Regions from separate parts of the Homo sapiens genome. Here all the other regions are reported to be linked to region 3. The links are microRNA targets in miRTarBase. Many come from high-throughput screens and were not tested one by one. Region 3 holds a microRNA gene; each other region holds the end of a gene's coding sequence.

Evidence for each region. The annotated mature microRNA hsa-miR-92b-3p reads UAUUGCACUCGUCCCGGCCUCC and lies in region 3 at 2,955-2,976, opposite strand. An mRNA with a match to its seed (bases 2 to 7 or 8) in the 3' UTR can be bound and repressed. Matches are read on the target gene's strand: a 7mer-m8 pairs with bases 2 to 8, a 7mer-A1 pairs with bases 2 to 7 and ends in A, and an 8mer does both.
Region 1: miRTarBase lists VPS54 as a target of hsa-miR-92b-3p. Seed matches in the 3' UTR shown: 7mer-m8 at 1,294-1,300.
Region 2: the mRNA of PIK3AP1 is a reported target of hsa-miR-92b-3p. Seed matches in the 3' UTR shown: 8mer at 3,292-3,299.
Region 4: miRTarBase lists PHLPP2 as a target of hsa-miR-92b-3p. Seed matches in the 3' UTR shown: 7mer-m8 at 3,498-3,504 and 8mer at 518-525.
Region 5: miRTarBase lists CEP152 as a target of hsa-miR-92b-3p. The part of its 3' UTR that is shown has no 7-base or 8-base seed match.
Region 6: miRTarBase lists UBE2Q2 as a target of hsa-miR-92b-3p. Seed matches in the 3' UTR shown: 7mer-A1 at 3,583-3,589.
Region 7: miRTarBase lists TSC1 as a target of hsa-miR-92b-3p. Seed matches in the 3' UTR shown: 8mer at 3,885-3,892.

The regions. Positions count from the first base shown.
Region 1 is chr2:63,889,791-63,894,359 of GRCh38, reverse strand. VPS54 (VPS54 subunit of GARP complex) reads left to right here. Exons shown (of 23, transcript NM_016516.3): 23 at 825-2,210. The coding sequence ends at 930. UGP2 (UDP-glucose pyrophosphorylase 2) reads right to left here. Exons shown (of 10, transcript NM_006759.4): 9 at 4,175-4,279; 10 at 2,800-3,240. The coding sequence ends at 3,133. Among named protein-coding and RNA genes, the nearest start is that of UGP2, 50 kb to the right of the region's middle.
Region 2 is chr10:96,592,006-96,596,684 of GRCh38, reverse strand. It overlaps PIK3AP1 (phosphoinositide-3-kinase adaptor protein 1), which reads left to right. Exons shown (of 17, transcript NM_152309.3): 17 at 1,051-3,370. The coding sequence ends at 1,108. All of the region lies in intron 2 of LOC105378443 (a long non-coding RNA gene), which reads right to left. Among named protein-coding and RNA genes, the nearest start is that of TM9SF3, 7.3 kb to the right of the region's middle.
Region 3 is chr1:155,194,213-155,198,212 of GRCh38, reverse strand. It overlaps MIR92B (microRNA 92b), which reads right to left and starts at 3,036; the gene lies at 2,941-3,036. It overlaps THBS3 (thrombospondin 3), which reads left to right. Exons shown (of 23, transcript NM_007112.5): 18 at 1-171; 19 at 285-333; 20 at 554-750; 21 at 1,000-1,172; 22 at 2,087-2,226; 23 at 2,314-2,625. The coding sequence ends at 2,372. THBS3-AS1 (THBS3 antisense RNA 1) reads right to left here and starts at 3,216. Exons shown (of 6, transcript NR_183238.1): 1 at 2,841-3,216; 2 at 1,196-1,362. RefSeq lists enhancers at 376-1,211, 1,212-2,047 and a silencer at 3,204-3,533.
Region 4 is chr16:71,645,234-71,649,912 of GRCh38, forward strand. It overlaps PHLPP2 (PH domain and leucine rich repeat protein phosphatase 2), which reads right to left. Exons shown (of 19, transcript NM_015020.3): 19 at 1-4,679. The coding sequence ends at 3,657. Among named protein-coding and RNA genes, the nearest start is that of MARVELD3, 21 kb to the left of the region's middle.
Region 5 is chr15:48,734,392-48,739,070 of GRCh38, forward strand. CEP152 (centrosomal protein 152) reads right to left here. Exons shown (of 27, transcript NM_001194998.2): 27 at 3,547-4,679. The coding sequence ends at 3,858. Among named protein-coding and RNA genes, the nearest start is that of CEP152, 74 kb to the right of the region's middle.
Region 6 is chr15:75,898,735-75,903,413 of GRCh38, reverse strand. It overlaps UBE2Q2 (ubiquitin conjugating enzyme E2 Q2), which reads right to left. Exons shown (of 13, transcript NM_173469.4): 13 at 2,336-3,987. The coding sequence ends at 3,956. Among named protein-coding and RNA genes, the nearest start is that of FBXO22, 2.8 kb to the left of the region's middle. RefSeq lists an enhancer at 1-368.
Region 7 is chr9:132,892,024-132,896,573 of GRCh38, forward strand. TSC1 (TSC complex subunit 1) reads right to left here. Exons shown (of 23, transcript NM_000368.5): 23 at 1-4,550. The coding sequence ends at 4,212. Among named protein-coding and RNA genes, the nearest start is that of SPACA9, 15 kb to the left of the region's middle.

The DNA of each region.
Region 1 (4,569 bases), not on the chromosome of region 3:
TTTTTCCATTATAACCATGCCATACTGAAGATCTTTATACATGTCTAATGGTGTGACCATTTCTTCAGGGCATATACCTATAAGTGAATTGGAGCTAATACACTTTTCATATTGTTAGGTATTGACAGTGGCTGTACCAACTCCCACATTAGTGGAGTAGTTTGTGAGAATTTGTTTCCCACATCTTTTCAACATTTGCTGTTAGATTTCCTAATTGTTGCTAGTCTGATGGGGGATAGTAGTACCTTGTTTTGATTTGCATTTTCCTGACGTTTACCATTTTTTCAGTTTATTGGTTATTCAGGTGTTTTCATCTGTGACTTCTTATGTTCTTTCCTATTTTTCTCTTGGGTTTTTAAAGAAATATCCAGTATCGCTTATATACATGAATACTAGTCTGTATTTAACGCCTTAGATGACACTTAGAAACCTAGCCTGCTTTTCCCTTGAGTTTACTATTTTAGTCAGCACTCCCATACTCTAGTGCTAACCAATCAAAAACATTTTAGTTTAGCCTGTTATTTTCTCTGTATATTAATTCATGCTGTTTCAAGATAAATCTGATTTTCTTGGGCTGAATTTATCATGAAACTGACTCTAACAGCCATTGGTTTATTCATTTTCCAAATATTTATTATTGAAGTACAGCATTAAATGGCCTACTTATTCATAGCAGGAATCCTGCTAAGTAAAGTATTTGGACACTTGGGCACTAAGAAATCTGAATTTTAGATAATAGGACTCTGACTCGGTGAGCACTGTTACTTTAATTATCTGAATAGAAAGTTTGAGATTTAAAAAATAATTTTCTCTCCATTATTTAGGTTGGTCACAGCAGATGTAGCTTTTTACACTGGAAATCTTCAAGCCTTAAAAGGCCTTAAAGATTTGGACCTAAATATGGCCGAAATTTGGGAGCAGAAGAGGTGATGTCATCCTGGAAAACTGGGTAGTTCATCTGACCATGGGATGTGTTTGTTATGAAGAAAATCTGGATGCCTGTGATTCGAGAATTGAACCTGAAACCCAAAGTGAACTGGGGTGGGGGAAGGGAAAAAGGAAAGTATCAAGTGTTGGGAAACTGGATTCAGTGGGATCTACAAGGAATGTCATTTTTGTGCATCCTACAGTGAGGAGTAACTGATCAGGTGTCTATAACATTTTTCATTCTCTCTGGAAACAGACTCAGGTTTCTTTGGACCAAATCCAAAAGAACACATAGCTGTAACACAGCTGTAGTTGACTAGAATGCTCTGTATACTTTATATTAAAAAATGCTTTGCATTTCTTCCAGTGCAATGAAATTCATATGGTGTCCCACCTTATTTAATGATGGTACAATTTAAAATCTTAGTCAACTTCTGTAGAAAGTTTTCTCTATGAAAGTAAAGCTGTTTGAAAAATTATTATTTTTTTACAGATCTTTCTATAAAAAATAAACATCTTTTGATTGCTTGGATTTAGGAATTCAATTTTTGTTTCAGTGACCAATGTCAAGTTGCAGGCTTTGTGTGTTGCATATTTAATATTTCTACTACCACCGTATGTCAACTGGGTAAAGCCTTCCAGAGCTCTCTAAATACCTGAAAGACTTAAGCCTTTTTTTAAGTAATTAATACTTAAAAAAAAAGATCCTGGCATCTATTTATGCAACTAAATACTTTTCAGAAATGGTATATAAAAGGCTACAGTTTAATATCTGTATTTTTATAAAAGTATGATGAAGGGTTTGGGGTGTTTTTATTTGTAGCAGAGGTAAGAATATGTATTCATATAATCTGCCTACTTTTGAGTTCTCATATTAACATTTAGATAACATATGAAGTATGGCCCCCTTGGATCCTTGTTTTTAAGTTACTTTCGATGTGTATACGAACAAAGACCAGGGAGAAACAGAACTTTTAAAACTATAGGCTGCTGTGTTGGGGCCAGAAATAAGGTGACAAGTAAAGACTTTTATAATACCTACCTTCAAAATTAGAATCAGCAGCACTGTACAAATAAAGTGCCTGTGCTTCACCTCACACCAAGAATCTTGCCTAACCCTGTCAGAGTGCCTAATATCCTGTGGTGATTATGTATAATGAAACAGTCTTATTTTGTGCTCTTTGGTTTCTTAAAAGGAAAGCTTGTTTTCTTTCCTTTATCATTACAGAGGTATGTCTTTGGTTCTTAAACTATCTGTCTAAAATAAAGCTGTAAAAAATTAACAGACTTTAAAAGGCAACTTTTTTTTAAGTGGTATATTGTGAACTTTAAACAAGCAGCCTACTCAAAACAAGTATGGATGAATTTAAAGAAAAGGCATAAATTGAACTACCAGCAGACCTGAATGGAAAGATTATTAATGATCATTTTTTCAGTGATAATAAACAAGCTTCAGGAAATGAAGCTTCAGGGAAAGGGAACTTTTTATGAAGCTATACCCCCTACCTCACTATAGAAGAGTACAAGGATGTGAAGAAATGCCTTCCCTTTGCCCACCCCCGTCAGCTGGGAAAATAAATGCCACTTTGTTTCAATAAATGGAGAGTTTGTGGAAAGCATGGCAGGCATCCCAGTTTTAGAACTAGATGAAAGGTAGGTACTAAAGAAAATACCTTCAGTTTAATTCCTGTGGAAATAATGGTATGATTAAGATTCTTAGAAATGCCAAAAACTGGACTCATTAAGTACACACTGGCTAGGTAACTAGCCAGTGTGTACTTAAAGGGCAAATCTTCCAACTAATATAGTAACTGTCTAACAACAATAAACCAGTTTATAGTTAGCATTATAAAGTACCAGTGTACACAAGTATTGCTTCACTGCTTTATTTTTGAAATCACAAGCAATTCAAAGTGATCATCATTGAGGCTTCTGTTAAAAGTTCTTCCAAAGTTGCCCAGTTTTAAGATTAAACAATATTGCACTTTAAGATGAACTAACTTTTGGGATTCTCTTCAAAGAAGGAAAGTATTGCTCCATCTGTGCTTTTCTTAGACTAAAAGCATACTGCAGAAAACTCTATTTTAAAAATCAACACTGCAGGGTACAGTAACATAGTAAAGTACCTGCCTATTTTAGAATCCTAGAGAACATTTCATTGTAAGAAACTAGCCCATTATTTAAGTGTCCACAGTATTTTTCATTTCAGTGGTCCAAGATGCGAAGGTTTCCAGACACAATCTTGTTCTCTAATACTGCTCCAGGTGGGATATCAATTCTGTCACCATGATTTGCAATGATGATAACCGTTCCCTAAGTGACAGGGAAAACAAAAGAGTGTACTTGCAACTGAAATGCAATTTGATTATCTTACAGTGATCAAGTTTATGTACAACTTTTTTTTTTTTACAGTGAAGTAACTTTTTTTATAAACAATATTAAACATGAAAAACAAATAACAGTTAAGGAAAATTGTAATGTGTCCTTCTGTAACAATCCTGGCAGTAGTTCTAGATTCTCTGTCTCCTTGTTAGAGGTAGAACTAAGAGCGGGAAGTGGACCCGGTGCCACAGCATGGCCAGCCCCTTTTGGAGGCCTACTTGCAAGGCCACCAGCATTATCTAACCTTCATAGAGAAATTAAAAGGTGCTTGGTTTACATTTACATATAGGGCTTTTGTTGTTGTTTTTATAACAGTTTACTGATAAGATTTTTCATGTCTTAAGTCTTTAGGCAGTCTCAGCAATAAAATTCAATATATGTATTTGTTTTTTCAAGATCTTCATTTAAGTAAGTAGCTTTAATGGGAGGAGTATATGAAATCTAGTTAGGAGATTTTTTAAAAAATTACATGATTTGGAAAAAGCTATTGTATCTTTGGTGAGCTTTAATACTTTTATACCCCCGTTTCCCTCCTATTTCTTACGTGAGGCTGGAATGACACTGAAGAGTACCTGAGTACTACAATAATGTAAATGAATATTCTTACAGTGATAACATTCCTTTAATAGGTTATATTCAGTACAAATTGTCATTTTTTTTCTGCTTTTACTCAATCATCTTTAGTAAGCTAATGCTAATAGTGATCCTATTTTAAAGATTCTCATTTCAGTAAAATAATTACACTAGTAATTAAGGTGGCACTAAGACTAACAAGTATTCCTTAAAGTAAATGTAAATTTATGACTAGAAAATGAGACCTATATTGTAAGCTGTAAGAAATATAATTTTCATTGTAACAACATACCTTTAATGAAACATTTTTTCCAAATGTCACATCTCCTGAAACTGTGAGGTGATCCAATTCAAGCATATCTGGTATACTTTCAAATCTTCTTAGATAATCTTGAACCTTACAGAAAAGGAGAAACATAAAAATTTGTCTCAAATGGGTTCAAAGAAAGACAGGAAAAATATTAACAAGAAAGTTTAACTGAACTGTAGAAACCTTTTTTGGCAAAGCTCAGGTCCTCTGTGGGAAGCACCTACTTATTAAGCACTCATTATATGCTAAATGCCGTGCAGGAAAGACCAGGAGCTACAAACATTGTTTTTACACCAAGCAATTTACAAGATAGTTGAGCAGATCTAAGGGTTTTTTTTCTTTTTTTTTTTAAAGATAATCAACATGCCAAGAGCCAG
Region 2 (4,679 bases), not on the chromosome of region 3:
GAATAACATGGAGGGAAGTTTCTAGGAAGGCAGATGCAGAGTTGGGATAACAGTTGAGATAACAGTTATCTCATGAGGAAGCAGTCATGAGAAGCAGGCTTTGGAAATTCCAATTCCTCTCTCAACAAATCTCCCTACTACAGTGTGTCTCCCAAGTGGCTATTAGAATTGCTGGTGTTTTAAAACCTAGGTTTTATTATTATGTAGGTATGGCAAAGTCAACAGCTCAGGAGACAACTGCCACTGAAAAGATAGTTTGTTATACTCACAGATCCCAAAACAGGGGTACATCAACCCATAGGGGGCTACATGGGGAAGCATCAGGGCCAGTGAGGAGGCAGAGGAGCAGGGGAAAATGTGGACAAGAGCTTTTATTGTGGTTTCCATGGGACAAAACAGGTGAGCCTGGGTAAGATTTAGAATTGGCTAGTTTGAATAATTTCATTGGCTCTGAGGCATAAGGGCTGACTCTAGTCGTCTGGTACCTGGCCCTAGGGTGATAAGGGCAAGTGGATGGTGGCCCCATAAAGTGGAGTGTGAAAGCCCCATAGAGGAGGTGGTTGGGGCATGCATCTGGACTGGTTGGTTTGCATACGAAAGGTATATTTAGCACTGGAAGGCAAGTAGCTTGTTTGCTGTTTCTAGGAATTTTAGCTTACCCTGGGAGGGGCAGTCTCTCCAGGGTCAGCAAGGCCCCAAGATGGCAAAACATCAGATAATGAAAGGATTGGTGAGGACAGCTGTTTGGGGAGGGAAACTATTCAAAAGCTTTGTGGCTTGAGTCCTATCCTCTAGAGCTTAGAATGCGATGGGTCTGGGATGGATCCTTGGAATTGGTATTTTTAAAAGCTCCACTGGTGTTTCTAATGTGCCGCCAGGATTGCAAGCCACAGCTAGCATGCGTGTCACTCATACATTCATATGTGTGTCCTGTCTCATTGAGGATTGTGTCCTTTGCATAGTATACCAAGTTTGCAACAAATTGTGCATTCCTAAGAACTGTTTAATCAAATTAGTTTTTAAATAGAGTTGCCTTATCTTTCATTTTAGGCCTCCGACCAGGGAGACCTTCCATCCTCCTCCACCTGTTCCACCCAGAGGACGCTGATTCCACCTCCTAAAACCTGCCTACTTCAGGACTTTAAGACTCACAGTCTTCAGCCTGTTAATGATGTCTTCATGTTGAGTTTTATAGCATGACTGTTGACCTTAAGATCCATTCTCATTGCTGATAATGCTGCAGCCCTGCTGGTTTGGGCTTGCCTCGAAGATTTTATTAAGGCACGAAGAAGTGAAAAACTAAGGGCTTCATTCACCATCACCAAGTATATCGAACCATATACTTGTTTGCCAAAAGGATGAAGACTTAATCGAAATACTTACCTCTAATTTGCCATATCAGAAGCCTAAAAAGAATGATCATAAATGTACTTCACCAGTGATTTTACTGAAATGCACTTATATTAGTCTTTATGTATTTGCTAGTTCAGCCTGATTTCTAGAAGAGGTTATAGTGTGAGACTTGTAGTATTCAAGTAAGATAAGTGACCTAATTTTAAAATAATTCTTCTACTTTTCTGTATATTCAGCAGGGTATTTAAGTGCTAGGGCTGGTCACACACAACCAACTGAAAAAGACTAGAGGGATTAGTACAAACTCCTCTTATACAGAAGGCAAATCTGAGGTTCCACAGAAGTCTGGAACCAAGACTATTCAGTTGGTTAAATAAAGAGGTTAGTCTAGACTGGGCCTGCTCATTCTAGGTCACCACATTTTCCATCTCCAAATAGCCAGGCCCTCTCTCCCTCAAGAAATGCCCAGATGTAGAAATTCATCAGTGCCTATTGGTCTTCCAGAATTTTCCATCTTCCGTATCTCCCAGGCATGAGACTACCAAGTTTGTTTGTTTTCTTTCCAATTTGGGAATTTATACTTCAGTATGGTTTCAACGCAGTTATGTTTCCAGAGAACATCTAGAAGTGGCTGGAAACCAGAAGCTGGGGATTCCAGGGACCCCACTTAGTGCTCTATTTCCTTTATAGGTTTTATTTCTGGTCATAGAGAGAGAAGGACCTTTGACTTTTTCTTCGTTGAGGCTTCTGAGGAGGAAAAACAAACCTAAAATAGAAATACAGTCAGCCTTTCAAATCCATGGGTTCTGTGTCCGTGGATTCAACCAACCTTGGATCAAAAATATTTGAAAAAAAATCTACAAAGTTTCAAAAAGCAAAACTTGAATTTGCTGCATGCCAAGAAGTATGTTGAATTCATGTAAATGAAGTGATGTGTAGGCATTGTATTAGATATTATAAGAAATCTAGAAATGATTTAAAGCATACAGGAGGATGTGCATAGGTTATATGCAAATACTATGCTATTTTATATATGGGACTTGAGCATTTGTGGATTTTGATACTGGGGGATCCTGGAACCAATCCCCCATGGATACCAAAGTACGACTGTAGTTATCTATTTTTTACATACTTATTATTACCACCATGCTCAGTAAGTCCATTTTTGCATGGAATATGGAGCCTTAAAACATGTCATGAATTTGGAGTCCCTGGCACATAAATCTACCTTCAAATCAGAGGTCCTTAATGATGCCTAAACATACAGTAAAATTAGAATCAGAAATACTTCTTTAAAAAATATTCAAAATGTGTTTGTTTCCCATGGGATTATTCTCTATCCCACACGAATGTAAAAAAATCCACATTAATGATCCATTTAAGTATAGTTTTATTGGGTCCTTTTCTAATGATTAAAGGTTCTTTCTCAATTTCATTCCTCAGTCCTGCAAGTAAGGACTCATACTGAAGAGTACTGAAACAAGGACTTCTTGTCAGAAACAGCTTCTGGAATCTTGGGTTTTGTTTTTGTTTTTTGACAAAATACACTATTGGCCATGTCCATCACGAGAGTGTTTGTAGTAATTAATTACCTTGTACAGGACCTGGCACTTAGTAGCATTCTTCAAATGTTCCCTCAGTGATCCTTTTACTCTCCTTGTCACTTATTTGGGAGAAATAGGGGCACGTGAGATAAGAAGAAGAATAATTTTGATGTTGGTATGCTTGCCCTGTTACTTATAGACAGTCTTTGTCATAGGCAAACTTGAATTTGATTTAAAATAGGGCTGGGAAAAATATTCAATAACTGTAAGCCCCCTTTTGGATGCCAAACTTAGAATTTTGTACATTCTCTGATGAACAAGCATTTAGATCGTAACATGGTAAAGCCTATTACCAGCCAATGTTGTTAGCATCTTTGTATGCACATCACTGTTTGTGCAATATATGAATATTTTGTTGCATTGTATTCTTATATAAAAATAAGTAGAAAACATAAAATTGAAATTGCTGATGAGAAGCCTTGTCTCGTGAATGTGATACACTTGAGACACGGATGGAACTGATCAGGAGTGCCAAGTCAAAAGCAGCAGATCTTAAGCCCTCACTGGTTGTTCCTTTAACATCCAAAATGGTTGGTTATATGTAAAAGAAGAAAATGAAATAATCTGGATGAAACACTGGGACTGTGTTATCAAAGAATGTCTGTAGTGATGAGGTGAAAATTTTCATTTTCCAGAAACAGAACTGCTCATTTATAACATAAATATATTCAACTTCCACATACTCAACACATGTGTATACATTTTTAGGAGTACATTATGTAACAAAACCATGGATTTCCAATACAATGAGAAGCAGAAATGACACTGCAAGCTAGGGTCCAAAGAAACCATTAAAAAATTTTCTACATGATGCTTAGGCAGACAGCTCTGCTGCCACCATCCTTGCCCAAGATTTTACAAGCTGGCTCCATAGAAAGTGAAGCTGTTGGGTATATTCACCACCATTGCCTTTGCCCCTAAGGTAAATTGGCCTCCAATTCCTAGGCCAGCACTTTTATTTCATCTTATATTAAAACCTAGGAGCAGATAATCCAACTAAGCAACAAAGTATGAAGACTGAGAGACTATTTTTTTTTTTTTTTTTTTGAGACAAGAGTTTTGCTCTTGTCACCCAGGCTGGAGTGCAGTGGTGCCATCTTGGCTTACTGCAATTTCCACCTCTTGGGTTCCAGTGATTCTCCCGCCTCAGCCTCCCGAGTGGCTGGGATTATAGGCACCTGCCACCACGCCTAGCTAATTTTTGTATTTTTAGTAGAGACGGGGTTTCACCATGTTGCCCAGGTTGGTCTCAAACTCCTGACCTCAAGTGATCCGCCCGTCTCGGCATCCCAAAGTGGTGGCATTACAGGCGTGAGCCCCCGTGCCCAGCTGAAGACTGAGAGACTATGAACAAGAGGTTGGTGTTGTAATCTAATAATTTAACTGGACATATTTAATGATGTGAATAATCTCTAATGCTCTGCCTTAGTTACACAAAGTGGTAAAATATAGATGACTTCTACGAATATTTTTACAAGTCAAGCTAAGTTACACATCCCCTTTTAGCTTTGTTGTTACAAAAAAAAAAAAGGTTCTAGTCATTGCCATATCACTAGGATTTTTAGATTCCTCTCCCAAATGCCCCAGGAAGTAAGTTGGTTTTCTGTGTTCCTCCTTCAAAGAATAGTGTGTGGTTTTGCAGCTGGTTGGTGGAGGAAGCATCAGTAACAGATTTATTTCTGAGAAAGACAAGTGGTTAATTTGGAAAATTCTAAAAAATTC
Region 3 (4,000 bases):
GTTGGTGATGTGTGTGAGGATGACTTTGACAATGATGCTGTGGTCGACCCCCTGGATGTGTGTCCTGAAAGTGCAGAGGTAACGCTTACGGATTTTCGGGCCTATCAGACCGTCGTCCTGGATCCTGAGGGTGATGCTCAGATTGACCCAAACTGGGTTGTGCTCAACCAGGTAACTCGGGGCAGTGGGCTGGGCAGGTGCTATCAGACAGGGCTACTGGGACGGGGGGCCTGGGAGGGATAGCACACCTGCATCACAGCTTTTTCTTTACTATACAACCCCAGGGCATGGAAATCGTTCAGACCATGAACAGTGACCCTGGCTTGGCAGTTGGTATGTAAGGGATATGCAGTTCAATCACTTCCAAATGGAGGAATCCTATAGGGGCAGAGGGTAGGGGAGGAAACAGACAGGGAGAATGGGCAAAGTGGCGAGAGAGAAGGCAGTGGCACAAGCTGGCCACATACATAGCAGGCATCCCTTCCCAACTTTACCCCATGATGGGCCGCCAGTAGCTTTGCTGCCCCTGACCTTTATCCCACCCCCACCCCAGGATACACGGCCTTCAATGGTGTGGACTTTGAAGGCACCTTCCATGTGAACACAGTGACTGATGATGACTACGCAGGCTTTCTCTTCAGTTATCAAGACAGTGGCCGCTTCTACGTAGTCATGTGGAAGCAGACCGAGCAGACCTACTGGCAGGCTACACCCTTCCGGGCGGTTGCCCAGCCCGGGCTGCAGCTCAAGGTCCCCAGCTGCTCAGATTCCGCAACCCAGGGCCCTTTCCCAAAGCTCTCCTCTGCAGCCCCAGGGCCTCCCCCACTGCTTGACTGGGAACCCTCTTACCCAGACATCTGGCTTGGAGGCCGGCTCTCTGGGGCCCCAGGGCATTTTCATGACCGCCTTGAATCCCTTTCCCACCTGCACTTACCGACCTGTTGTCTCCCCTCACTCCAGTTCTGCAGTTGACCCACTGTCTTTGCCAATGTCTCCTAGGCAGTGACATCAGTGTCTGGCCCAGGTGAGCACCTCCGAAATGCCCTGTGGCATACTGGCCACACCCCTGATCAGGTACGACTGCTGTGGACAGACCCACGAAATGTGGGCTGGCGGGACAAGACCTCCTATCGCTGGCAGCTTCTGCACCGGCCTCAAGTTGGCTACATTCGGTAAGGAGAGGGGCTGAGCCCACCTGTGGGACTCAGGCCGGGCCTGTCCTTCCTCTTTAGCTGGGATTCACCAGTGACCTCTCCATGGGTGGGAACTGCAGCCACTTCTCTCCATCACCCTTCTCACCACGGACACAAGCACCTATGAGTGATGTTGGTGAAGTCACTCCTCCATGACCCATTTTCCCGTCTGTAAAATGAGGGCATTGGGTTAGATGCCCTTTACAGTTCTCCAGAAGCCTCCAAACCCAGGCCAATCTGTGAAGGGGCACATCACATCTGGTCCCTTAGTTGGTATGACCTGGAACCTGTCTTATCAACGTGGATAGGGATCATCTGACCTGGAAGGCATCATCATTTACAGAAGAGAAAATCAAGGCCCTGACTTCACAGGCCTCGGTTCAACACTTTGTCCACAACTTTGCATTTCTCTCCAACAAGTAGCCCTAGTTGGTGGAGATGAACAGGAAGGGAGGGGAAATGGGTCTGCTTAGAGGCTGGACTTTCCATGGCCAAGAGCCCAGAGTCCAGGAACCTGGGTTGGTTCCCCTTTAAGGTGCCTGGGGCTGTGGGGTGCCAGGACAGGGGATAAAAGGGGGTGGACTAGAGCCTGGGAAGCGGGTGACTTCACCCCCCAGCCCATTGTGCTTATTGTCATGGCAACCCAATCCTCGCTTGGAATGCGGCTGGTGCTTTGAGATGCAAAAGGAGCTGGACAAAGAGCTAGGGGCCCCAGGCCTGAGAAAAGCACCCCCCTTCCCTCTCCTTCCTGCCTCCCTTTCCCTCCCTCCCTTCTCTCTCAGGCCTGGTGAGCTCAAGGGGGGCTGGGGAAAAGCAAGGCCCCAGGCATGGTGGCACAGTGCCCACTGGCACCCTAGCACCAATGGATACTCCTATCCTGGAATCCTGGACAGGGTGAAGCTCTATGAGGGACCCCAGCTTGTGGCGGATTCTGGGGTGATCATTGACACATCCATGCGAGGGGGGCGTCTTGGTGTATTCTGCTTCTCCCAAGAAAACATAATTTGGTCCAATCTCCAGTATCGATGCAATGGTGAGGTGGCTGATTGAGATCAACCTAATCCTTCATGCCTTGTGGGAGAGCCACATCCTCTGACCTTACTTATTTCCCCTTCTTCAGACACAGTGCCTGAGGACTTTGAGCCATTCCGGAGGCAGCTGCTCCAGGGAAGGGTGTGAGGAGGAGGCCACCAGATTCAGAATTCAGAATTTTAGACCCTTTGGCCTTGGGGTCCATCCTGGAGACCCTGAGGTCTAAGCTACAGCCCCTCAGCCAACCACAGACCCTTCTCTGGCTCCCAAAAGGAGTTCAGTCCCAGAGGGGTGGTCACCCCACCCTTCAGGGGATGAGAAGTTTTCAAGGGGTATTACTCAGGCACTAACCCCAGGAAAGATGACAGCACATTGCCATAAAGTTTTGGTTGTTTTCTAAGCCAGTGCAACTGCTTATTTTAGGGATTTTCCGGGATAGGGTGGGGAAGTGGAAGGAATCGGCGAGTAGAAGAGAAAGCCTGGGAGGGTGGAAGTTAGGGATCTAGGGGAAGTTTGGCTGATTTGGGGATGCGGGTGGGGGAGGTGCTGGATGGAGTTAAGTGAAGGATAGGGTGCCTGAGGGAGGATGCCCGAAGTCCTCCCAGACCCACTTACTCACGGTGGCAGCGGCGACACTCCAGTCTATCAAAGATCCGCCGGGATGGAGAGCCAGGAGGGCGGGGGCTGCCCCGCTAGGGGTAGCGGGGAGGCCGGGGGGCCGGGGGGGCCGGAGGCCGGGACGAGTGCAATATTGGCGGGGGAAAAAACAACACTGCACCGCGTCCCGTCCCTCCCGCCCGCCCGGGGCCCGGGATCCCGCTCCCCACCGCCTGAAGCCGGCCCGACCCGGGAACCCGGGGCGCGCTGGGGAGTTGGGTTCACCTTGGAGGCCAGAGAGACTTGGCGCCCGGAAGGCAAAGGGAATGGCAAGGGGGAGGGGGGAGGGAGAACGGGAGTTTGCGGAGTCCCAGAAGGCCGCTTTCCGACGCCCGGGCGTTGCGCGCGCTTGCTCTTTAAGTACTCAGACTGCGCGGCGCGGAGCCGTCGCCATGGTGACGCGTGTCCCAGCAACCGAACTGAATGGCTGTTGCTTGGCAATGCCGGGAGTTGAGGTTTGGGGCCGCCCACCTAGCTACTCGTGTTTTCTCCGGCCTGCGAGTTGGGGGGCTCCCCGCCTCCCCGGCCCGCGCTCCCGGGCGCGCTGACGTCAGATGTCCCCACCCCGCCCAGCGCCTGCCCCAGGGTCTCGCCGCACACAAAGCTGCGCCTCGGGCGCCGCGCGGCGCGCGGGCGAGAGCTGTGGTCTCTCGCCTGCTGATCTGATGCGCTCCAATCCCGTGCCTCGCCGAAGTGTTTTTAAAGTGTTCTTTCCAACCTGTGTCTTTGGGGCTGAGAACTGTTTTCTGAATACAGGCGGAACTGCTTCCGTCGGCCTAGAGCGCAGCCTGCGACTGCGGGACCCAAGTTCCACGTGCTGCCGCGGCCTGGGATAGCTTCCTCCCCTCGTGCACTGCTGCCGCACACACCTCTTGGCTGTCGCGCATTACGCACCTCACGTGTGCTTTTGCCCCCCGCTACGTGCCTACCTGTCCCCAATACCACTCTGCTCCCCAAAGGATAGTTCTGTGTCCGTAAATCCCATTCTGTCACCCCACCTACTCTCTGCCCCCCCCTTTTTTGTTTTGAGACGGAGTCTTGCTCTGTCGCCCAGGCTGGAGTGCAATGGCGCGATCTCGGCTCACTGCAACCTCCGCCTCCCGGGTTCAAGCGATTCT
Region 4 (4,679 bases), not on the chromosome of region 3:
ACTGATCACCAAATGAGGCAAACAGAGCAGGATTGACTGTAGCTGCTTTTTCTCAATCTAGGAAGTGCTTACCCCAACTATGGGGCAAAAGTCACTAACTGGAAAGATTAACTTGCCTTCATGATTGGGAGTCGGAAAGCCTCCACCCAGAAGGAAGTAAAAAGTGACACTAGACAGTCCTATAGTGATGCTGAAGACATCACTGAATGGCTTGGAGACTAATTATTTAATAATTGGTACATTTATCGATAACAGCCAGCTGCTCCCTTATGGAGGTCTCTTCATTAATAATTATTGGATAGATAGAGAAGGTGAGCCTGTGGCTTCCAAGTACCGGCTTTTGCTGAAGGTCTACATGGGAAGAAGAGCATCATTTGATATTCAGTAGATCTGCCACACCCAACTGGCTCCATCTCCTGGAAAACAGCACTCACTACAAGCAACTGTAATAGCACCCAGCAATGACCACGCTGCTCCTGCTGGCTCTTCCGTACACCAGTAAATGAACTCACCAATGTATTGCACACATACACTTCACAGTAGTACAATAAAGCCCTGTATCAGGAGTGGTAATTCAATGACTTGACTCTATAGTGCACTGCAGCTTTATGTCATACCAACATTCAAATATTCAAATATCCTTCCAATCCATTTGGACAAAAATACACCATGGCTGCCAAGACACATGTATTTTTCTTTCTTCCATGGACTCCTAAACTGCTCCCACAATCAGCAGTGTTCTTCTCTCAGAAATTATCTTAAGCTTCTCTACTCAATGGGAGGTACACACAGAGACCTGAGAATATGCAGAGGCCAGAATCTCTGTCTGTGCTAGAGATCAACTGTACTCTGCCCACCTGGGGAACACATCCTCTGGGTAAAGTACTCGGAAGTAAATTACATTCACCTGGAGACAGATACGGGCTTTCACTGACAGCCTGTTTAGAAAACACAATGTCTGTAAGTTACCTCATAGGTCAAAGAGTTTTGTATTATATTTTTCATAATGGGCTATGGCCTTTTTACCCTGTTTTAATACAGAGCAACTGCAGAAGGACATGAATTAAAGCAGACTGCAAAAAAGAATAATCAGTTTTGGTATCGCCTATAACAAAGATTTTCAATACAACCTAATGGTTCCTGAAAAAAAATTCTACCACACAGAACAACATTTGGAATTACAGAGTTCTGCTGACTAAAAAATAAATACATTTACTTTTGGTAAGGTCATTTCAGAACTGGGTTTTGAGGTGGTTCCAATAAGTAGGTTGGGAAACGAATAGCAGACAAGAAGGGTTCACCATAATGAATAATTTTTATAAGACTATACTATTAAAGTGGTGTATTCCCAAAATAACTTTAATTTTTAGACATCACTATTCTACAACCCGAAGGTTCTGCCATCTAAGTAAGATGTTTTACATCACTCATCACTATCATCCTGTTATTTCATTTTCATTTTTTCTTCATTAAAAAAAATTTCCCATATAAAAATAAGGTGGCAAAACACTCTTGTTCCCATCTTTCTAACAGCACCTAAACTCTGTGTGAGCCACTATGTTCCCTACTTCAAATCAAAGACCTGAGTTCTAAAATTCTCAATAGCTGACCAGTAGTTTGACAATCTGGGGACTCAAGTTCAGATTCTCGAGGGGTTGAACATTAGACATCCATTAGAGTGTACCAAATCCCCCAAGAGTGTATCCCAATGACACGTGCATATGAGCATGGGGCCTCTGAGAAGATGAAGACACATAATTATTATGGACAGGTCATCTGATTTTGACTATTGCTTTGAACAAAAATCTTCCCAAAAATACACACGAAAATATATTTATATTTAACCCTCTCTTTAACATAGTTTCTGATGAAACAAATTAAAAATGGCCCTACTTTATTTTTAATTGTAAAAGTGTTCCAAAAATTCAAAGCACATTCCCCATTGGGTAAAATCAAGCAATGCCAACATTTTGTGGGAATAAATAGGAATTAATTTTCCTAAGCAAATCTTCCAATGGAAAAAGTGACAGAAGTATGAAGAAACTGCATTTTGCTAGGGTTATGTGGAATGTGCAAAGAGTATAGGTTTTCTGTAAGCTTAAGAATTTCTCAATGAAGTGTCTTTCTTATGTTAGTATTGAGCCCAGTATTCTGAAACCACATAAAGTGAATATGCAGTTTTCAGAAGAGTACACTGTTCAACATTCAAGAGGCGAGCTCTCAACTCACCTCCAACATTCTAGAGAACCATCCCTCTCCTCCAGCATAGGAGAAGGAACAAGTCTAACCTGAGTGCTCCATCCATCTGTTCTCATTGGCCTCAGTCCGTTTCAGAGTCATCTGCCATAACTTAAGGTCACGTGGATGCAAGCAGTGTCAGCCTTGGGCCCCCGCTCCCCGCCCTTAGGAAGCTGTCTGCCAATTCCTCCACATGCTAGGGAAAGACGCCAATCCCTAAATTTCCCTGGGAAATACCTAGCAGGTATCATATTTGTCAAGGGGTAATTCTCTTTTTCTGATCTAGGGAGAAGTAGTCTAGGTCCTCACGCCTTCCCCATTTTCATCCCCAAAAGAAGATCCTATTACCCCAAGTTTCTCAGGAGCTTTCACAGTCTGACATCCAAAAGTTAAATCAACTTCACAGGGCCCTTCCTATACCCTCGAATAAGTCTCCAACACCCAGTTCTCTCTCTGCCTATGGATGAAGGTGCCGGGCTGCCTCTAAGAAGATTGGCTCGAGTGCAGATTCAAAAATAAAAAGTTCACAGTCAATGAAAAGTGCTCTCATTACATTACATACATAAATTATCTGTTTGATTGGTTCTACATTTCCAACAGACATCATTTTGATAGGCTGTATTCTCGTAGAGAAGAATGAAAAGCCATGTGACTAGTCACATCACACCCCATTAGTCTGAGATAAGGTGATTTCTCTGTCACAGAGATCCATCAGCAGCAACTAGTAAAGAGAATCAATCTTCACTTTTTTCCTCCACAGAAATAGTCCCTTTCCTGCCCAGGCAGGCAAATTCTCAAAATGATCCTAGGAGAGAAAGGGTTAATGGCAGGTGGTAGGACTGATACAGAACAGCTGCTTTCTTCCCAGTACCCCTGGGAATTCCAATGCAGGTTAAATGTGAAACTTAACACTGATAGTGGCTACCAGTTTATCCAGAGCCAGCCCCTGATGGCTCTCACACTTTTTGGCTCCGAGTTCAACCCCACACAGCTATGGTTTAGAAATGTAGACGCAGGGCTGGGCATGGTGGCTGAGGCCTGTAATCACAGCACTTTGGGAGGCAGAGGAGGGTGGATCACCTGAGGTCAAGAGTTCAACACCAGCCTGGCCAACATGGTGAAACCCCGTCTCTAAAAAAAAAAAATAAAACTTAGCCGGGCATAATGGCAGGTGCCTGTAATCCCAGCTACTCGGGAGGCTGAGACAGGAGAATGGCTTGAACCCAGGGACAGAGGCTGCAGTGACCCGAGACCCCACCATTGCACTCCAGCCTGAGCGACTGAGCAAGACTCCGTCTCAAAACAAACAAACAAAAAAAAAACGAACAAACAAAAAGAAATGTAGAGGCAGAATGCCTCTAGCAAGTCCCTACCCCAACCCTGCACAGCCTCCTCCCACACTGTGCCCAGTGGGGCAGTCATAGTGCTGTGTCGAACTCCTCCGGGGGCTCGGTCCGATCCTCTTCATGGGGCTCAGGCTCGAGCCGGCTGTCCTGGTGCTGTTTCATTTGTTCCTTCACTTCTTCTTCCAGGTCATGAGGCACAACAAACTGGTCCTCTGGTTCCATCTGAGTGGGGGCAGCAAAATAGCCAGTTTTCCTCTTGGGCACTTCTGTGGCCACTTCAATGAGGTTCAGGCTGTCCTCTAGGGGCACAATAGAGCCATTGGAGAGTTTCTTCCCATAGAGGCAGGAGGTGGAGGGAGACTTCTGTAACTCCATCCTGTCCTTGCTCATTGGCAGGAGCATGCCACTATTCACACTGTTCTGTCTTCGGATCCCAAAACACGACCCTCTAGCATGTTCCTCAGAACACAGGGTAGGAGAACTCTCTATGAGAGGGGGTGAGTTCTCCAGATCCCTCCCCCTGCAGCAGTGGATGTCTACTTCCACCTCTACCTTGCTGCCATTGGTTATGACCCCCTCAACGGGCTGGTCATCATCACTGTCCAGGCCGTTGTCAGACTGGTTACTGGAGAAGGTAGCAGAAGAAGGCTGGCGCTGAAACAGCCCAGAGGTGGGTGTTGGGTGGAGGCTGCAGCGCCGCTCTGGCCTCGGAAGCAAGGCAGTGTCCAGGCCCCCAGCATTATGCTCATCAGAAGCAGTGGACCCCACTTCACTGCTCACCTCTGAGGTGGACATCTCACTGCTGAACTCAGAGGCAATCCCACTGCTAGAGGATGGAGTGGCTGGCTTAGGGGCATCCTTGATAGTGGTGGTTGAAGCAAATCCCACAGGACCTGGGAGGGTGAGCCCATTCATTTCACAAGTGCAGCCTTCCTCACCAATATTCAAATAAACTACCATCGCCCCTACATTGTCCTGACAGCCATAGCTCTGCGCTAATGTGCACAGCTTCTTAGCAGCTGCTAATGGGTCTTGTACGTGACGTACAGCATTGACAGCTTCTGTGTAGGACAAGTGTTCCCACAATGCTTTGTT
Region 5 (4,679 bases), not on the chromosome of region 3:
TAGCTAAAAAAAAAAAGGTTAAAAAAACTAAAATGGTACCCTCATAAATATCTGTTTAATGCAGAAGAAGGCAATAAAAGAGCAATTCAATAACGAAAGATACACAGTAACCAAATAGCAAAATGGAAAATGCAAACCTAACAAAATTGTAGTAAATTTTAATGCACCTAAAAACTCCAATCAAAGCTTCTCTGATAAAAAAAAAAAAAGCAACATCCAGCACTATACTGTCTTCCAGAGACTCACTTCAAATTAAAAGATACAAATAGGTTAAAAGGAAAAAAACAGAAAGACATGCCATGCAAACAGTAATCATAAGAGAGCTGCAGTGGCTGTAGTAATTATAGACACAATGGACTTTTAAAACAAGAAATATAGTAGATACAAAGAGGGATATTTTAAAATAATAAAGGGCCAATTCATCTGAAAGGCATAACAGATATAAAGGTATATATACCTAACAACAAAGCTTCAAAATACATGAAGCAAGAACTGACAGAATTGAAAGAAAAAAGTTTAACAATTACAGCCAGAGATTACAATATCTCACTCTTAATAACCAGTTGAACAAATAGGAATAAAATCAGCAAGGCTATAGCAGACTTGAACAATGCTATCAACCAACTTGAACTGACATTTTTGAATACTCCATCCAAAAAGAGCAGAATATACATTCTTTTCAGGTGCATGTGAAACATTCCAGGATAGGCCATATGCCAGGCCATAAAACAAGTCTCAAGAAATTTAAAAGGATGGAAATCATTCAAAGTATATTATCTGAAAACAAGTAAATTAAAAATAAATAAGAAAGAAACTTTGAAAATCTGCAATTCTTAGAAATGAAGTAACATACTTCTAAATAATCTGTGGGTCAAAAGAAAAATCGCAAGGGAAGTTTGAAAATATTTTGAACTAAATGAAAACAACAATACAACATATCAAAACATATGAGGTGCAACTTAAACAGTGCTTAGAGAGAAATTCAGAGCTTTATACATCTATATCAATAGAGAACAGTTTCATATCAATAATCTAAACTTTCACTTTAAGAATCGATGAAGGGCCAGGCGTGGTGGCTCATGCCTGTAATCCCAGCACTTTGGGAGGCGGAGGTGGGCGGATCACTTGAGGTCAGGAGTTCAAGAACAGCCTTGCCAATATGGTGAAACGATGTCTCTACTAAAAATACAAAAATTAGCTGGGCATGGCGGCACACGCCTGTAGTCCCAGCTACTCGGGAGGCTGAGGCAGGAGAATTGCTTGAACCCGGGAGACGGAGGTTGCAATGAGCCAAGATCGCGCCACTTCACTCCAGCCTGGCGACAGAGCAAGTCTCCATCTCAAAAATAAATAAATTTTAAAAAAAAGAACAAAGAACAGTTAATTAGACATAAAGCAAACAGAAGGAAGAGGGAAAAATCAATGAAATTGGCAATAGAAAAACAAGAGAAAAGAGAAGAACCCAAAAGTTCTTTGGGGGAAAACAAATCAACTAATCTGATAAACCTTTAGATAGACTAAGAAAAAAATGAGATGACACAGAATACCAAAATCAGGAATGAAAGGGGGACATCATTATCAAGCCTACTGAAATGAAAGGATTATGAGAATACTATGGCTAACTGTGTCAACAAATTAGACAATTTAGATAAAATAGCCAAATTCCTCAAAAACCAAAAACTACCAAAACTGACTAAAGAAAAAATGGAAATTATGAATAGCTCTATAACAAGAAAATACATTACTTAAAATCCACACTTCTGCACCACCCCCACCACCAGCCCAGGCTAGATGCCTTCACCTAGTAAACTCCATCCAATATATAAAGAAGAAGTAATACCAATGCTACACCAATTCTTTCAGAAAACACAGGCAAGGAAACACTTTCCAACTCACCCTATGGGACTGGTATTACCCTTTTACCAAAGCAAGACAGAGAGCATGGGAAAACAAGAGACCAATATCTCTCAAGAACATACACATGAAAATCTTTAACAAAGTATAAAATAAAATAAAAATCCAGCAACATTAAAAAAAGGGCTAAATATCATGACAAAGTGAGATTTATGTGATCATGATATCTACAGGGCTCCTGCCTCCCTTTTGTTCTGCCATGACCTTTCAAACCAATGTACACCACTAGTCATAGTTTGGCTGTGTAGTCCCTTCATTTGCACACTAATAAGTGGATACCTTCATATTTATCATAATAGAATTAGGTTACCTTGTCATACACCCTATACCACACCCTATCTCCAACCAATTGGATATAGGATGTATGACATAAAGTAACTTAATCCTATTGAGATTATGAGTATCAAAAAAGATTAAGGATACTCTAAAAGGAGCAGAAAGCAAGAGAACTTCCAATTTCAACCTTAATGTTGAGAGTTTAAATAACTGACATGGATTTTGAACCAAGTGGAAAAGGTAGGTGAGCAACGAGCCTAGATTCTAAGTTTACTAAAAACAAGGGCTTAAAACGATCAAGCACCAACCAGATCCATAGGGAGCATAAACTTGGCTGTTTTAGAGTTTTTTTCTAGAGTGAGAGATGACAGCCTAACTGTTGGAGAAGGAGCATTGTATCTTCAGGAATACAAGTGAGACTTTGACAAGATGGTTTGTTCCTTACTATAGCTGTATGTGAATTCAAGCACTGAAGTCCAGGACCAATTTTTAGACTTATTTATCCCTGGTCAAGAGTTAAGGTGACAGAGCTTTCCAAGCCCAAAAAGTTTTCCTTCTCGGTTCTTGCTTTTAGAGATGGTTATCAGGAGGAGGAGGATGCATCTTGCCGTCTCCCCATCACCACCTAAGTTATCTGGCTCTGGGTGGAAAAATACACTAGATTAACCCCCAAATACAATCCATAATATAGTAGGTGTGGGAGATGTGAGAGAAAGCTATAGTTAACTGTTTTCGGAAGCACTTGCATACAGCTAAATGTTCATACCCATCGCTAGGGATCTGAAAAAGAATTCACCTAAAAACAATGATATTTAGGTAGTCATTCATTTCTGCATGTATTCTTCAGTTTAGAATTATAACCTTTAACCTAGAGCATTAATTAGCCAGTTCTGCACTATAAATGAATGTAAAAATCTAATCGTTTTACATTTTTTGCTACATGACAAAACTTATCTCAATTTTTCAAAAGGTCGTATTTCAGATGAAAAAACAAATGTGAAGCCATAAAAGAGACAAAGTTTTTGGATGTCACAGATGATCTGAAATAATGCAAGTAAGAACTAAAAAAATTCAGACTAATATTTAAATAATAAAACCAGGACATAGCTATGTATTTTGTAGTAAACCCTGGAAAACCTCTAACTGAAAAAAAGATCAAAATTTTGAGTAGATATTGCTAGGAAAAGTCTATGTAGATTAAGTTCATAGCCTCATTAAACATGACTAATTTCAAAAACTAAATCTGACTAACACATACAAATAATCAAAATTTATGTTTTTTTCTGGGTGAATTTCAAACATGATGCCAATATGACATTTCTGTATTCTGAACCACAAAATAATTCATAACAATTCTACAGACCATATGCAAGTTTATTTAAATAAGTTAACACTGCAGAGTGAGTCAATTTATAAGTATAAAAATAGATGGTTTAGAAACCAAAAATAAGCACCACACAAAAGCAGATTATACATACACCATCAGGCCTTTGGAATATTAAGGCAACATAAATATCTCAAGCAATTTTAGAAGAATGCTTTACTTATATAACAGATGTTATTAAAACATCTCAAAAGAGGCAGGGCTCACAATTTTTTTCAGTATGAGGTCTTCCCTTCCATTTTTGTTAATATATTAATGATTCTTCTTAAATACTGTACCATAATTAGTCTAGATTAACAAATGGGCTATCAAAGCCACTATCTTGTTGGCTAGATAGCGGAACAATTAATTTTCTTGAAGGCTGCTGACACACTGAAGATGGTAATGTACTGCTCAGTTTTTTGAAATCTGACTTTAATCTATCAGCCTTATGACGAGATGGGTGTCCACAATTCACACTGATCTTTCCTGGCTCCAAATACGTGGTTTCTTCTGACAGGTATGGAGTTTGATAACGCTGACATTTCATTGTTTGACAAATCATATTACTTTCCTCTGTATCTGAAAGATAACCGGATGGTGAAAACTGTTTGGATTTAACAGATTCACTTGGTATTTCCAAAGTTCCTTGTGGCCTACCATGTACAAATGATGCTTCACGACTGTCAAAGGATAAGGTTGCACTGCTGGAAGGCCAGCCCAAGCAGTCACTAAGGTCCCCTCCATCTTTTACTGGAGGTTCCTGAACATCCAAACCTTGACTTTTCTCAGATGCAGCATTTTCACTTTCCATTAGTGGATTGCATTTATATACTTTTAAACCAAGTCTTTCATTAGAATCGCGAAAGGTTATATGCATGCATCCTGATTCAGAAGGACCAGGGGTACATCTAGGTGAGGGTTTATTTCCTAAGGTTCCAAGAAAGGGGTATGCAGCTGAATGCGGAAGTGATTCAGAACCATTATCACTGAGTAGGTCTTTCTTCTTGTGCAAACCAAAGCCTCCTTCACCTTCACAAGGAACAAACTCAGGAGAAACATTCCTTGGCAAACTGTTTAGGTGCTTGCAACTACCATCCCCAAACTGGAATTCCAAATGTGTCTC
Region 6 (4,679 bases), not on the chromosome of region 3:
TGCCCTGGCACCGCCATATTTCTGAGTTTACATCTTTCTCTAATTCACAAATTCCTTGCAGGGACTAGGTAGTACTTATTGCTCTTCGTAGTCCCAATGCCTGTTTAAATAGCATAAGCTCGATTTATAAACGGACGTTTGCTTTTAAAAAATTGTCTTAGTGTGTGAAAATCACTGCCTTTATTCCTTGTAAACTTAGTTAACTCGTTGTAATCTTCAGGTTTAAAGTTTCGAATGAGTAAAATGGCATAAATAGCACCTGCCATTCTAAGGTAGCTGAGTGAGATGATTGCTGTGAAGCACGCCCCAAGCTGTGCACCAGTTCCCCGCCAGGGACATCAGATTCACCTGGAAACTACTAAGTTTTAGCACATTCCCGGTCCTTATCCCAGACCTCCTGAATCAGACACTGGGGGTGAGGCCCAGCAATCTGTTTTAACACACTTTATGACGATTCTGATGCATGCTCAAACTGAGAACCACCAAGAAATGGAAGCACAGCAGACACAGGTTTGTCCCCACCTAACATCCATTCCTCCCGCCAATTCCTTCCTAAGGGAGCCCTGATTTGATCGCCAGATCTTGGGCAGAAACTTGGTCTAAATTAGCAGTTCTCATTATGGCCTCAGGACCCTTTACACCCTAAAATATTGACACGACCAATAGTTTATGTGTGTTATGACTATCAATATTTACCATATTAAAAATTAAATCAGAACATCTTAATGCTTAACTCTTTTTAAAAAACCGATGTTATACATTAACGAAATATTTTTATGGAAAACAATTATTTCCCAAATCCTCCTTCCCCCACTGGTGGATAGTATGACATTGTCAGTGGCATAAGCCTCCTGAGTAGCTGTGGTTTTTTTCTTTTTTTTGGTAGACCCAGGGTCTATGTTGCCCAGGCTGGTCTCAAACTCCTGGCCTCAAGACATCCCTCTGCCTCCGCCTCCCAAAGCGTTGAGATTACAGGTATGAGCCACCAAGCCCAGCCAGTTTTTTCCCATAGTCTATTTATAGGCGCAGCTGCTTAAGGAAGCCAGATGGCCCAGATGTCACCAGAGCTTCCTGACCCCTTGCGGAATACCAGAGGAAGATAAACAGGCGCCCTCCAGTTACCTTTAGATAATTAACATAATGCTAAAATCCTCTCCCTAAAGAAAGCTCACTGGCATCTTACGAACATGGATGTATGAAGCAGCATGTTCAGGGACTATGCCTGCTTGTCTGGAACTCCAGTCTGTGCATGCCGTTCATACCTCCCCCGCCCCTCAGCTAACTCTTTAAACTCCCCAGCCTCCCATCCCTCTGGGAGAAGGTGCCTTTAGAGTATGAGCTCCCCTTCTCCATTCTCTGGCTACTGAATGAAACCTGACTGCCTTTCAAAGTGGGCGTTCTTTCTTTGTGGCTGATATAAAGTAGGGAAAGAGGACAGTTTACCAGTGACGGCATCACTACATTTTTGCAAATATTTAATTTGTCTTAATAGAAGACAAATAGATTCTCATATTTGCTTCTGAATTCAATCTGTTGCAAAATCACATCATGTAGCCTCTGGAAAATTCCATTGTACACATGGAAGAATGAGTGAAAATGGCAAATGTTTTAATATTATGAAAATAGTCTTTTAAAACCTCTTGAAATGGTCTCAGGGGTCTCCAGTGTTCCCCAAATAAGGCTTTGAGAACCATTTGTGCAAACTAATCACGATGGTTTCATTCTTTTCACCACCATTGGTTTAGGGGTGGGCACAGGTCCCTGATGTAGCCAAGGAAAGGCAAGAGGCAGTGTGCTTGATGGGATGGTGCTTTTAGAGATTTCCTCACCTCCTAAGGAGACACTAGAAGACAGGGCCATTTATCTACCTCTGGATCAAGTAAGGGGGCTGCACATAACATGCAACCAAAAGATGAAACCAACATAGAAAAATCTCAAGGAAGCAGAGCAAAGCCCAGATGTACAGTACCTGGAGTTGTCCTACCTCTGGACTTCTTGTATGTGAAATAATCTGTCAATTGTGTGCAAGGAGGCCATGGGTATGCTAAGGAAGGAGCAGATTATTTTCACTGGGGGAACTAAGGATAGCCATAAGGAAAAAGTAGCACTTGAATTTATAATGAGAATGGAAGAGGAAAAAGGCGGAGGAAAAGGTGACTATTGTACAGACTATTTCCAGGTTCTTTCACACTTTCACTTTCTCTTGTTAAATCTGCCTGTCTTCCAAGCCTCCCCTCACCACTTCCCTCCTTAAATATCTTATTCCAGAAACTCAATAAAGCCTACAAACACATCAAGCAGAGTTTTCTTATGAGGGAAAAATGAGAAAGTAATCTTTTTTTTGCTTGCCATGATCAGCACAAACAAAATTTTTAAATGGTTCTTTATTCATAAACTTGATGCAAGTTTACAAAATTTACTGTACATTGCCAAATAAATCTGCAATTAAAAATAAAATCCATTAAACAAAGCATGCCAAATGTGCAGCTATCAGTCTGCTTGCCATCAGGATATTAAAGAATTCAACAATGTATTCAAGATTTAGCCTTAGGCTTAAGGAACTTTACTGATTTAAAGAATTCTGCCTTGTCACTTGTTATCTGAGCAACTGGCAATCAGAACTTTATACAAATGTAATCAAGTGAACAAGAATACCAGAAAATCTATTTACTGCTCTCTTAACCAAAATGGAATCAAAAGAAATTAAACACACACAATGTAGAAATGACAAGTCTCTCAGATGTGGTTTACAAAGTTAAAAACTGAATCTCAAAGCTAATGCACAAGAAACACTTTTGAACTTTGTAACTTGTTTGTGCAGAAAAATGTGCTTCTGGATTTGTTAAAAGTGCTTAAGAACTAGAATTTACTTTTAAATCAAACGTGGGTGTATAAAAAAATCTATTACCAACCAAAAAGGACTGATTCAGGTAAGGCAATAAAATGGAGAGTACCTTGATTTGAGTCAGGTTCTATAAAAAAATTAACATATGTAGAGTTTCTATTAATCTTTCAATGTAAAAGCCATTGTTTTGACATGGCAAAAATTACTGTAAGAGTCTCCAAATTAAGTATCTTTTTGTACTTAACTGCACAGCTTTTGCTCAAGGAGTCTTTGTGCCAATCACTTTATAAGTTTATTAGTTTACAAACGATTGCAACATCCCGTTAATAAAATGGAAACGTAAGATGACTTAGTATTTTAAATAACTTGAAGCTCTGTACTGTGGCTCTTGTTCATAAGAAACACTGAACCAACAAGCAGCAGATTCAGCCCAGCCAAGACTCTGATGCCCCAGTGGAAATCACTACTCACAAGCCTTAATTGATACAGTTTTACACTGCTTTGCCTAAGAAGTACAATACAACTCAATTAAGAGTATTATCTTCAGGAAACAATTCATATCTTCACATAGTCATTAAAAAGTTTAACAATTTAATGAGTAGGTTTCCTATCACATTTTGGCAATATCATAAAATGGTTTTAGACATGAAAGAGCTATTATGATTTAGAAGGCCTTAAATTTCCTAAACCAATATTGAACATCGATTAAACCTGTATTGGCTGTAAATGGAACAATATATTGCAAATCCTTGTAACCCATGGGCTCAATATAGGAAAGTTACCCTAAAGCCTCAACTTCAGTAGCCTGATGTTGACTTGGCTGCTTTAAAAAGTTCACTTTTCAAGAAAAAGAGATAAGGAGTGGCCAGTATGTGTATTTATCAGGAAAAATACAGTAAAGGCCCCACTGCTCAGTCCAAGATATCTAAAATGAGCAAAATGCAAAGGCTGTAACTTATACTGGATGTCAGATGACAGATTATCCACTAAAATATCTATTAACTAACATCTTCGGTACTGCTGTAATAGGGGCACTCAAAGCTTTTGTCTGCATGTTAGAAAGATTTTCTTTAAAGCAACATTAGTCCAAACATACAACAGTCAACACATTTAGCCATCTTCCTTTGGAGGGGTGTACCAGCCTGAAATAGAATGAAAAAAAAAAAGTTAAAATAATTCTTAAATAAATTAGAAGAACTGGCATGTAATAAGGTTAGCTACAGTCTCTTTTCATAATTTTGGTGTTTAAAATCTACCGTAAAAAATATATATATATATTATATATATATTTTTTGAGACAGAGTTTCACTCTGTTACCTAGGCTGGAGTGCAATGGCGCAAACTCAGCTCACTGCAACCTCCACCTCCCAGATCAAGCAATTCTCCTGCCTCAGCCTCCCAAGTAGCTGGGATTATAGGCATGCGCCACTATGCCCCACTAATTTTTTTTTTTTTTTTTTTTTGGTATTTAGTAGAGACAGGGTTTCACCATGTTGGTCAGGCTGGTCTCCAACTAATGACCTCAGGTGATCCACCCACCTCCACCTCCCCAAAGTGCTGGGATTACAGGTGTGAGCCACTGCACCCAGTCTACTCTAAAAATTAAACTTACACTTGGATTGGGAACACTGCATTTTGCTATTTCACAACAGAAAGTTATTTTCTATGAATAAATTGTACCTGAGTTTTCAACACAAGAGCTCTGTATTAATGGCATCTCTAGCTAAAGATGACTGTGGAATATTAGACTAAAAGAATAAGTTTTATTCCACTTCAGTTCTATACTTGAAAGTAAGCCTCATGGAAAGTACTTATTTCCCCAAACAAAATCCTG
Region 7 (4,550 bases), not on the chromosome of region 3:
TTTCATGACCAGAAGCCATGGGCACAGGTGCTCGGCTCTTCCAGGCAGGCTTCCCTTGTAGCTACAGCTACTCTTCCCTCAGGCGAGCAGATAAGGACTGCAGGACGGCATGGAAGAGACAGGAACACGCTCCCCTGGGCACATCGAAGAGTCCCGGACAGGCAAACAAGCCACATGGGACAAGGGTCACAGCAGCAGCCTAGGGGCCAGTCCTCGACCTAAACTTGTTCTTTCACCTACAGACAAAAGCTTAATCAAGTGCAATCAATGCCTTGGGATCTTTGCAGCAATCTGGGGGGCATGTGTCACAGAACTCTGGATGTAAACAGATACACAAACATCTTCAGACTGGATACATTTTTCCAATACTTGTTGCGGGTCGGTTTTAAAGCATGTACCCTGGAGAGTGAAGGTGCAGCAGATAGGTATACTGATTTGAGTCACTCCACACCAGGCAGCTTCCTTCTCCAGGTGGGGCAGAGCCCCCTGGGGGAACAACTCTCCAAGAGTATCCGCAGGAGGTGGGCGGCACCCCATCTCACCAAGGTCCTGGCCGGGTCTTCGCTCTGCCCAAACCCTCCTCCAGCCTGTGCAGGCCTCCTCCCACCTCTTAGTGCTTTCAGCGAGAAAAGGTGAGTCTCATTACGCAGAACTTTTGTTTGCTCTTCGGTTCTTTCCTTCTTCAAGTGGTATGCTCTACTATTTGGTAGAAATTCACATTGGCTTGTCACAGCACACTTCAGTTCTGCTGGCTACATGAAACGCATACCCAGTTTTCTATTCTTAACAGTGAGTCTGAGCCTCTGTGGTCTCAGAGATCCTTTCATCCCCATGACCATTTTATACATCCTCCCCTCAACAACTGCTAGAGTTTTATCTTTCCCAACAAATATACCAGAAACTATGTGTGCTGTTGCAAATGGGGACGGCCCAAGAGTCTGGAGTTTTGTTCCCTGCTGCCCTGCTTTTACCCAGTAATGTGCGGCATGGTGGGTGAATTTTTCTAATTGTCCTGGGTCGTAACAGTTCACCTTCTCAGAACAGTTTGGACTGTTTCCCCAACCATGTCACATAAGCTTTGGCTCACAAAGTAGCTCACCTCTCGCCTCTCCACTCTTCAAGCTTAGTAAGAAGATTCCGCAGCTTAGTCCCAAAGGTCAGGCAGTTTTCTCTCCTGAAAAACTCTGTGGACACACCTAGAGAGGTCACTGTCTGCCCACCTGCCTTAGTAATGCTGGTCCTAAAACTCATCTCCAAGGACATCTTTCACAACTTCTCCATCTAAGAAATGACCTTGACCTTCCTACCTTTGGGTTTGTTTTTTTTCTATTCATGACCACGTGTTTCTTCCAATCCCATAATAACAATTTTTATAGACTGTATAGCAGAGCCTTGTCAACGGCTTTTTGAAAATCCATCAAAGTTCTATCAGATGCAGATCTGTGTGTTTATTCACCTGCAGGGACTCCGGAGCTCATTTGCTCTGCGTCTTCCTATCCCCCTCCCCGCTAAAACTGTAGTGCACCTTTTTAAAGGAATTCCATGCTGCACAGCAGCAGACTTCGGGCTCCTCGGGGCCTGTGCTGACTCTGGTTAGTGTCAGGTGGGGATCCGAGTAGGTTATGCACATTGGCCAAACAGCTGAGACAGGTATGCTCACCCATAGTGATTTCTGGATGGAGGCCATCCAATCCCAATATTTATGAATACCAAGCTGCTTAATTGGTTTCAAGGTAGACTCTGCCCTTAACGCTTATTGTACTAATACCTTTGCCCAGGACTGAATTGCCTCTCGAGAGTAATACTGTCACCTTTCCATCCTTAGAACTACCCACTGCAGCATGATCAAGTGACCTGTTGACTCTTGGCAGGTTTATCATGTCCAAAACCAAACCAAACCTAACTACTGACTCTGGAGTTCTTTGCAACATGAAAGCCTACATTTTTAGGTTGGGCACCTTCAACATGACTCCAGGTCTCATTCTCCCAACCGTAGTTGAATAAAACCCACAGCCTCCTAGAACTCAAAGGCACCTGAGCTTGGAGCCACATTTGTTATAAAGCTGAGTAAAAGGACACCCAGGCCGCATGGATGAGCTGAGGACCCTGTGCAGACACGTCCATGGAGCTTCTAGCACAGGCCTCTCTCCATGCTGCCTCCTTTCTTCCCTTTATTTTTATAAGCTGTCCGTTTCTAAAATGTTTTTTCTTTTGCACTTGGGCCTCTTTTCCTTTCCAATTCAGGAAAAGGCTTTAAGTGCCTGGTATCTTGTTCTATGGCACAGATCTCTTGGGCATGAGGAGAAGGAAAGCACTTAAAACCAGTTTCAGGATTCACTGATGGGATTTCCTTCCCTTTCTAAGTTTGTTCACGTTTTCCTTTTCTAAAACGGAACCAGGAAACTAGACTGTATTGGGTTTTAAGCTTTCCTTTGGACAAAGCTGAATTAAATGTGTGGTGTCACTAATACTCCACATCTGACAATTCAGTACCAACTGCCAGCCTGTGCTAGGCTGAGTAGTTGGGACCACGCCCTGCCACAGGCTGGGAATCAGTCACACCCAGAAAGCCTGCCTGAACAGGTTTTCTGCTGGTATAGCTAGGGTGACAGAGTCTCTAACTGTCTAGTCCCCTTTAGTTAGGGATGCTAGAATATTTATTGCCATGCTAAAAAAAAAAAAAAAAAAAAAAGACTTTCATTCTCTCTGCTCGAGGCCTCCGTGGGCACTAAGATTTCGTACCGTGACAGTTTTTTACCTCTTTATGACTGAATCCTTCTATTCTTTTTAATGAAAGATAGAAACAGGAAAGCCAAGTTCACTGGCTCCTTCCTACCAAATCCCCCTGCCTCAGCTGGAACACCAGACCACAGTTCTTAGGCTTCTAGCGTTTCTTTCAGGAGCACTTGTTGAGTTTGGATTCTCTGCCACTGCCAATTTTCTGACTAGTGTCATCTCTCGGGAGCACGTGGGGCAGCCTAGTGGGTATACACAGCCAGCCTTTGCCAGCATTCTCCCGGACTCTGTTTAGACTGCTCTGCCATTACTAACATGGAGAGTGTGATGACATCAGCTCCCTGGAGAGTCAGCCCCTGAAAGTTGGAATTGGTATGAAAAAGCTGCCCCTCTTCTGGTAGCCTAGAACCTGCTACAGTGAGGCAACCCTAATGGCCTGGGAAATGATGGTCACATACACTTTGCAGAAACTCTTTGGACCTTCAGAGCCTTTCTGCTGCAGTGTCACATATAAGCTGACATGAACAAGAGGCGTATGCACACAAAGGGAGGCCAGTAGACAGAAGGGTTTAACAAAAGGCCCAGCAAGCTGAGATGGCCTAAAGGTGCAGTTCCTCATGCTCAAGTGCTTCTCGGGTAACCTCTCCCAGTGACTGCTCCTTCCCTCCTATGGAGAACAGGTTTTACCACCTACACACCAGCCTGTGGTCACAATAGTACCAGCATTCAAGCAAACACCAAATAAATAAGAGGTAGTGGGGGAAGAAGAGACAAGAGCTTTCCCAAAGGGTGTGTGGTCTCCACAGTGCCAGCTCCAGATTTCTGAAACAGGCTTCTGTTTACACAGAACTTTCTAGGAAGCTTATCAGAACTGCCAAAAGAATGCAAGTATGAATAAACCGTTGTTCTTCTAGACCTGCTGCTTTAGATGCTGAACTTCAGAATCAAAAAAGCAGTCGGAAAGTCTCATGTAAACGCTTTCATGTAAAGACAACCAGCTTTGCAGGCTATGTCCTCCTGGAAGGGACAAAACCAGACTTACCTGCAATGCAACAAACTACCTGGTCTAATTGAGAGCCAACCCAGTTATCTGAACTTCGGGAAAGCAGAAAGTGGTGTGTTAGACTCAAAGATTAAATTTGGCCTCATATTGCACAGGTTCAAAGGACGCAACCATTTGGGGGGGAAAGGAAGAAAGTAAAGCTACTGAGGAACACCAACTGGCCCTTGGATTAGAACACACTGCGAGGTAAATGAGAGGGGGTTAGGGCGGGTGGAGGGGAAGGTCAAGAGGCATTTCAATGCCAGATCCAAAAACCGTTCTGCATTCAGTCAGCTGTCCAAAGGACCTCCGTCCCATTTCCACACATGAACTTGCACTCAGACCCTGGAAACAGGAAAGCTTTGAAACGTGCATTCACACCTCCTGTTCTGTGCCAACAATATGCAAGTTAACACTGATTGACCATCATTCCTTAGCTGTGTTCATGATGAGTCTCATTGTAGTCCATGATATGTAGCTGTCCAACACTGTCCGGGGTCGGGGGAGACGGGTGAGGGCCATCTAGGTTCAGGGGAATCTTGGCTTCCACACCCAAGTCTTTGCCCAGTTCTGTCTTTAGGCTCTCAGAAAGGCTACTGGTCATGCCGTCCTCATCACACTGGCTCTCGCTCTTATTACGAAATAACTCTCGAGCCTTCATACCCAGGAAGCTTTTTGAACTGGGAAGTGAGCCCACAGTGGTGGGGATGCTGGCAGACGCTTCTCCCATAGTCGTCTCCCACCGACTGCTGAATGGGCCTGCCCTCTGGTG